Linked DNA regions of Homo sapiens. The protein of the gene in region 2 interacts with the protein of the main gene of each other region in a pairwise test. Each region holds a gene or a part of one and is shown on either strand. Other genes may lie near its edges.

Region 1 (3,820 bases), on a different chromosome or scaffold from region 2:
GTTCAGAAAATCAAGTCAGTCGTTGGCGGACCTAAAAAATGGCAGACGGTATGAAACGGTGTAAGATCAAAGCTCCCCTATTCAAACTTTTTGTTTCCACCACCAAAATATTTCTCTACGTAAGCAGCCATCCTCACAAAGAATACTATGTAAGACTGTTGAACCCAGAAAAGTAAAACACAAAGCTAGCAGACCTCATTGAGGACCTGTGGCCAGCTGGATCTAGATCCGATTTCCAGAAGGACGGAAGGGAACGCTAATGAAGGCTTGGCCAGCGCAGATGTGTTCCTGTACCCTAAATCCCTGCGGCTATTCCGCGAATGGCACGTCCAGCCAGGCCAAAGGTTTTTACCTTCCAGGACTTAGCCAAGTTCAGTCATTAGATGCATGTCCATTAGGTTCTGTTTCTTTAGTTAAAATAGGCATTTCTAATACTAGGTCACAATCAAATAAACTTAAATGTGCAAGGTAGAATCAAAACGGTGATTTATTTTCTTAAACTCATCCACCCTTTAAACATAAAGGAAAAAAGGGGAGGGGAGAGGGGAAGGGAGGGGAGGGGAGGGGAGAAGGGAGGGGAGAAGGGAGGGGAGAGGGGAGGGGGGAGGGGAGGGAGGGGAGGGGAGACGGCATGGAGGGGAGGGGAGAGGGGAGGGGAGGGGGAGGGGGAGGGGAGGGGAGGGGGAGGAGATGGGGAGGGGAGGGGGAGGAGAAAGGGGAGGAAAGGGGAGGGGAGAGGGGAGAAGGGAGGGGAGGGGGAAGAGGAGAGGGGAGGGAGAAAGAGAGAGGGAGAAAGAGAGGGAGAAAGAAAAGAATAGAAAAAAGAAAAGAAGAAAAGAAAAGCTAGAAAAAGCAGCCATAAATCCCATATGAAGGGGGATAGAGAGCTGGTCATCATTGGATGAAGTTTATAAGCCCACATATGAAACATGTCTTACATACAGTTACACTCCTCATTTCAGGAGTCATAACACACATTTTATTACATTGCACATCAGGTCAAATTGTTGAGTTATGTAGCAGTGCTAGGACATTTTTAATAACCCAAAAACACTTCTACTAAACAGCTGTTGTAATCAAACTTGCCTGTGTTGAAAATAAAACTAAAACTATATAATGAAAATACAAACAAGCCTAGGCAAGTAGCTTCTCTCATACGTTATATTCCACAGTGAAAACCAGCCTATATTTATTCTAAAGTACACAGAGCTTATTTTCAATGTCTTCTCTTTGGTATATTCTTATATAAGAAACTCAACAAATTCTACTGTATATTCTTCACACGTTATGCTCATTTATTTTTTTGAACACTAAGTTCTATTTCCAGGGAGAAACAAAATGGTAACTTTGAGGTTGGTACCATATTATACTTAGAACTTACATATCTGGAATAGATTTTGAGTTGGCAAAACCGTGTTCCCTGTCCTTTCTGACAACTGTTGCCATTTCATTTGCAGTCTCATTTCAGCTGTGAGGCATTTAACTCTCCCAATTTTGAAAAGCCTTCTTGGATAATTTTAGCATTCCCAAAACTTGCTGATAATACCCTAAGCTAAGGGAAAAGGCGTACCATCAGCAGCCCCCCGGCTGCCCTATCAATGGCTTGGAAAATCTATTAAGACGAATATTCTCACAACCCAATTGCCAACCCGGAACGATCAGACTGGTCTCTGTATTCCACGGTGCAGATGGAGTTTGTAAGAACGGGAAGGCCGGCTCTACTTCGGTGAGCGATAACACAGCTTTTCTGGTCAAACAGCTTCTGGAAAACACCACCTGATCGACGGGCGGGTACAGACAGACATTGGGAAACGACTTACCTCAACGTGAAGCGATCTTCAGTGGAATTTCTGGAGATGGAAACAGGAAAAGTCAGCACGTCTCCTTTCCTCACGGTCTTTGGTATATAGTGGATGGCCACGCTGTTGTCCAGACGCAGTTCTCTCAGGGAGGGTTTCCTGTGTGTCTGATAAAGGAAGATGCTCCCGATCCTCTGCAAGGGGGGCCCGGACTCATCGATGTCACTGTGGCCTGTCCGGATCCCATTGCTTCTCCTCGCGTCTTCCCTGACGCAGTCCCCTCTCTCACCCCCTGGGTGCACGGTGTAGTAGAGCTCCACGGGGGTCCCCTCCGGCTGGTCCACGGACTTCCTCCTCCCGGCAACCACCGTGGGGGGGCTGAACCAGCTGGACAGGAGCTCCAGCTCGGCCACGCACAGCCCCAGGTCCCCCTGCAGCCGGCAGCTGCCCCGCACCTCTCGGGTCTCTCGGAAAGCAAAGACCCTCAGGCACGGCAGCTTCTCCCCGGCGCTGCGGTCGTCCCAGTCTCTGCCCATGATGTGGAACAGAACCTGCACTTTGGGCCGGCTCAGGTAGACTTTGTCCCGCAGGATGTGGGCTTTTAGTTTCCAGTTAAGAGAAAATTTGTTGGTGAATCCAAATGGGTTGGAAGGTAGCATTAAATCCTGGGGCACCACTTGCTCGATGGAGAAAGGCCCGTAGCTGGCATTGAGGACAGGCAGCCTCCTGGATTTGTAAATCAGAAATGACTCCACCCGGGACTGCAGGCTGGAGTTCCTCATGATATCCTGGTTGGCCTCCTTCAGGAAGAAGGAGACGTCCGCGTTGTTGATGTGGTAGGTCACGGGGAGGTAGGTGGGCAGCAAGGAAAACCTCTGGATGCTCTCAAGGATCCCTCGACCTTCCGTCACTGTGGGGAGGGAATCGCAGTGCAGGCGTTAGTAATGCTAAGGTCCTGTTACCAGCATTTCAGACATCTGCGTGCCCCCTTCATAACAGAGGACCCTGTCTTCGCGCCAATTATGCAATTCCTTATCCAAACCTCTTAATCCAATCTACTCGCTTCATATTATTTGTTTCAGAAGAAATAAATGCCACCAACCTAAGTAGAAAACCAGTATCATTTAACCTATAAAAAAGTTGAGCATGCAAATAAATACAATTCAAATACAGTTTTAAAATTTCCACTCGTGATAATGGTGTTTTTATGGGGTTATGGTAAAGACTTGCTCTTTTTTTGATCAAAGGAGAGATTAGCAAGTGTTAGAAAGCTGTCACAGACAAGCTACCATCGACAGAGAGGCACCGTCCCATTGACTCAACACAGACTGAGATTGGAAACAGGAATGACTTCCTCAACACATGGATTGATGCCACGTCCACATTCCACCTGATACATATTCCTTTGTGTTCCACTCATATGCACGTTCTGCATATACGCACATGTCCAATGGGAAATGCTAACAGACTTGGGGCAAAAATAGACGCAGATGCACAATCATAAATCACATGGACAGTGGACACCCGCCCCCAGTTGGAGTTAAGGGGAGAGATGCAGAGAAAATACCTTGGAAGGATATATTGGGAGGGGCCCTCTAGAAATAGATGAGATGAGGTGACCACGACACCAATGTGTCAGGGCCGGGCGTACAAAGCAATGCTCCAAGTCATCTATGAAACACTGGACCCTGAACCTAAGAAGCACGGGAAGGGCAGCACCTCGCTTCCATGCCAGCCACATCCTGTGGACACTACGCCGTCACCAACGAACAAAATCCATTGTTCATTTTTCCGCACTGAACGTATCTCTCCCTCAGGGGGAGAAAAATCCAAAATGTTATTTTCACAAGTTGCCTTACATTCTGTAAGAAAAATGCAGGCAGAGCAATTGCATAATCCAAAGAACCAATTTAAGGAGTTTTAGAAATGTAAACTATTGGCTGGGAACACTGACTTTCTAGGCAAAGCTCCACAAGTTATGCTGAAGCCCTTCTCGTCAGTCACCATGTAATTATCTTTGA
Region 2 (3,629 bases):
ACTATACATAAAAATGTGCTTCAATGATACATGCTGAATATCTCAGAGTCCATTTAAAATTATGTGCTGTTGCTTAAATTTTTAGAAATGACATTTTTGCCTACAGCACACAAAAGTGAAACCAGATAGAGATGCATCATCTCTTTGGCTGAAGTCTACAGAGAGGAATGGAGGAATTCATACCTACACCACACACATTAGAGTGTGTCTGGAGTTAGGTGGCTGGGCAGTTTGATGCCTCACAGATCTGGACAGCATCAGGAAAATTGCTAATTAATGGGAGAATGAAAGGACCCTAAAAAGTTATCACTTGGATCCATGCTCCTTTACTTTATTCTAGAGTGGGATCTTCCCCTAAATACTAAATTAAGGACAGGACTTGGAAAGAGTTCCTGTGATTCTAAGAATTCAATAAATTGGCATAGGGTGGTGGTACTGGTTATAGGGGAATTCTGTCCATAGAAAACAAGGCCCCCATTATTTTTCAGTTAAAGAATTGTAGTCTATTTTGAATGCTACCACTCTGTATGGCTTCATGTTCAAAATGGGGCCCTCTGTTCTGTCCTGCAGTCCTACCACATTCTCCTAGTTTGCTCATTCTCCTACAGGACTCTCATACTTCTCCCCATAAGCCTGACATCTCCCCTCTCATCCTCATCCTCAGCTGACATGACTTCCTATTTCACTGAGAACCAGAATCACTTGAAAAGAACCTCCACAAGCTCTCCCCACCACGTCTCCTTGCCTATTACAGAGAGGCCTGTGGATGCAATCTTCTCTGGATCAAAGGTCCAAGACCCTATAGAAAGCAGAGCCCTTGCTCTGTCACTAGATCCCACTGCTCCACCTACTAAGGGGCCCTGCTCTACCAACTGTCCCCTGCATCACTGGCTTGTTCCCCTTCACTGAGTCATTTGCATCATTAGACAAGCTTCCATTTCCCACATCTTAAAAAAGTAAAGATGTTTTACCTCAAATGCCCCAAAGCTCTTCCTTTTTATCTTTATAATAAAATTACCATGAAAAGCTGCCTCTATTCCCCATCTTCAGTTCCTCTACTTCCACGCTCCGATCAGACTTCCCGCCTCACTGCGCTAAAACTGCTTGCCAAGGCCCCTCCGGCGTTCTCATCGCCAAACCCACTCGTCAGTTCTCAGTCCTCGTGCAGACGTGCCAGCAGCATCTGGTGTGGTTCGGACTTCTTCCTTCCTGTTTCGCTTTCTTTCCCAGCCTGCAGGAAACGGTCTGCTGGTTTCTCTCTTCCGTTACTGCTCACTCCTCTTCAGTCTCCTTTGCTGGTGTCTCCTTATCTCCTTAACCTCTAAGCACAGAGTGCTCAGGACTTAATCTTCAAACCTGTCTCACGTCACTGCCTCATAGCTTTGACTTCAGCACATTTCTCTCTGACTTCCAGGCTTGCTTATCCAATTTGCTTATTAGACATTTCCATTTGGATGTCTAATAGACATCACATACTTCTCATATTCAAAACCAAATTTCTGATATTTCCCCCAAAATGTTGCTCCTATCTTCTATATCTCAATAGATGCCACTTTCATCCTTACAGCTGCTGAGGGACAGAACCTCCTCAGTCGTCTTTTTTTTCCTCACATCTAATCCATCCGCACATCCTGTTGGCTCTACTTTCAAAATGTATTCAAAATCTTAACCACTTTTTACCATCCCCACAGGTGATAACTTGGACCAATCCACCATCATCACTTACTGGATTATACAGCCTCCTAAGTACCCTCCTTCACACACACACACACACACACACACACACACACACTCTTCTCTCTCTCACCCTCTCTCTCTCTCCACACACACACACACACACACACACACTCTCTCTCTCTCTCTCTCTCTCTCTTCTCTTCTCTCTCTCACCCTCTCTCTCTCTCCCTACCTCCCTCCCTCCCTCCTCAACACAGCAGCCAGGAGGCAGGAGGATTACTTCAAATGCCCATCATATCTGCTCCTCTCCAAACCCTCTGATGGCCACTCACCTTGGAACTCTGATTCCTGAAACTTGCCTATGGACTCTGCAGGCCCTGCCTCCTCCCACACACGCCACTGTGCACCTCCACCGCACCATCTCCCTGCCTCATCAGCTACTTCCCTCCCCACTGTGCTCCCTCCACACCGGGCTTGCTTTTCCCAGAACACACCACCCACACCTCCTTCAGGTCTCTGCTTGAGTCACCTGCTCACTGATGTCTTGCCTCCCTGACCATTCTATTTAAAATTTCAACTTTCATCTCAGGATGGCATTCCCTAGGCTGTCTTCCCTGTCTTACTTCTTTCCATATCACTTGTCACCATCTGACATACTATATATCCTATTCATTTATTGATCACCTATCTCCCCTCACCAGAAATTCCCATGAGAGCAGAGATTTTGGATTGTTTTGTTCATTTGCAGTACCCCAGTGCGTAGGGCAGTGCCAGGCATGTAGCAGGCACTCAGTGAATATTTGTTGAATCCATGCATAAATACTCCTGATTTCAAAATACTGAGGACAATGGAGAATTGTAGTTAAACATGCGGTTTTAAAATGTGCCCAATCTTGGACTGTATCCCAGTTTTGCAGTTTACTAGTTTACTCAGATTACTTAATCTTTCCAAGCTTCAGTTTTCTCATTTATAAACTGGATCTAATATAATAATGCCTATGTCATATAAGGTTGTTTTGAGGAGTAAATGAAACATGAACTGTGCTTAGAATAATCCCTGGCTCATATTAATTATGTACTAAGTGACAGTCCAGCATGAGGGATAATAATTTGCTGAAAGAGCCCATTTCTTGCTTATTTGAGCCAGGCAAATCAAATACAGCACTGTTCTTTATTTACGAAAGCTTGTATTTTACATTAAGTACATATACAGTCTATTTTACTTATAGTCTATTATACTAATTTAGGGTACAGCAATTAGCTGGACAGGCTGTAGTACAACAGTGCATCTCTATAGGCAAAACTGAACATCCATGAAAGGGGTATTTAGTAGGTACCTACTCTGTGTCAGACACCGTCCTAGGCGCTGGGGATATGGTTGTGAGCAAAACAAAGTCCCTGCCATGCCTCAAAGAGCTTACTTTCTAGAAAACAGAGAGCTGGAAGGTAGCCAGACAAATAATTCACATAAATAGAGAATATAAAAAAGTATTAAAAATGAAGCCTGATTCAGATGCAAACACCACGTGCCACCATCTTGACATCTGAGATGGCCCTCCATCACCGTGGCTCATCACTGTGATGCTCAAGAATGGACTAGGAAAAGTGCATGGATTTTGTCTGACCATGAAACATTCTGTGTTGTAAGTGCCCAATATGTTATTGCCTTGATATAAAACATTCACTGTGCTGTTAAATGTCATTGTTTTGAGGTAGTACTTTTTTTTTAATGTTAAGTGAAAAAAAATCTAGGTTTCAAGTATTTACAAATATATAATGTGACATAAAACAAAAACTCAGAAGCTGTTATATGAAAGTGCTAATGTTCTCTGGTTGATGAGTCATTACCTTCCTCACTTTTTGTCTTTTACAAATTTTCTTTAATAAGCATAGTATTATTTATGTAAACAGAAAAAAAGTTATAACCTTTCATCTACTAAAATGTCTCTGTT

What was found.
Region 1: the proteins of RCBTB2 (region 2) and TMEM132D interact in a two-hybrid assay, tested with the Homo sapiens proteins (one large-scale study listed by BioGRID).

What each region holds. Positions count from the first base shown.
Region 1 is NC_000012.12:129,697,990-129,701,809, forward strand, and holds part of TMEM132D (transmembrane protein 132D precursor), read right to left. Parts: intron 2,710-3,820; coding exon 1,821-2,709; intron 1-1,820. UniProt on the Homo sapiens protein: Regulate neuronals morphology via inhibition of the WAVE regulatory complex (WCR), a complex that controls F-actin cytoskeletal dynamics.
Region 2 is NC_000013.11:48,491,469-48,495,097, forward strand, and holds part of RCBTB2 (RCC1 and BTB domain-containing protein 2), read right to left. Parts: intron 1-3,629.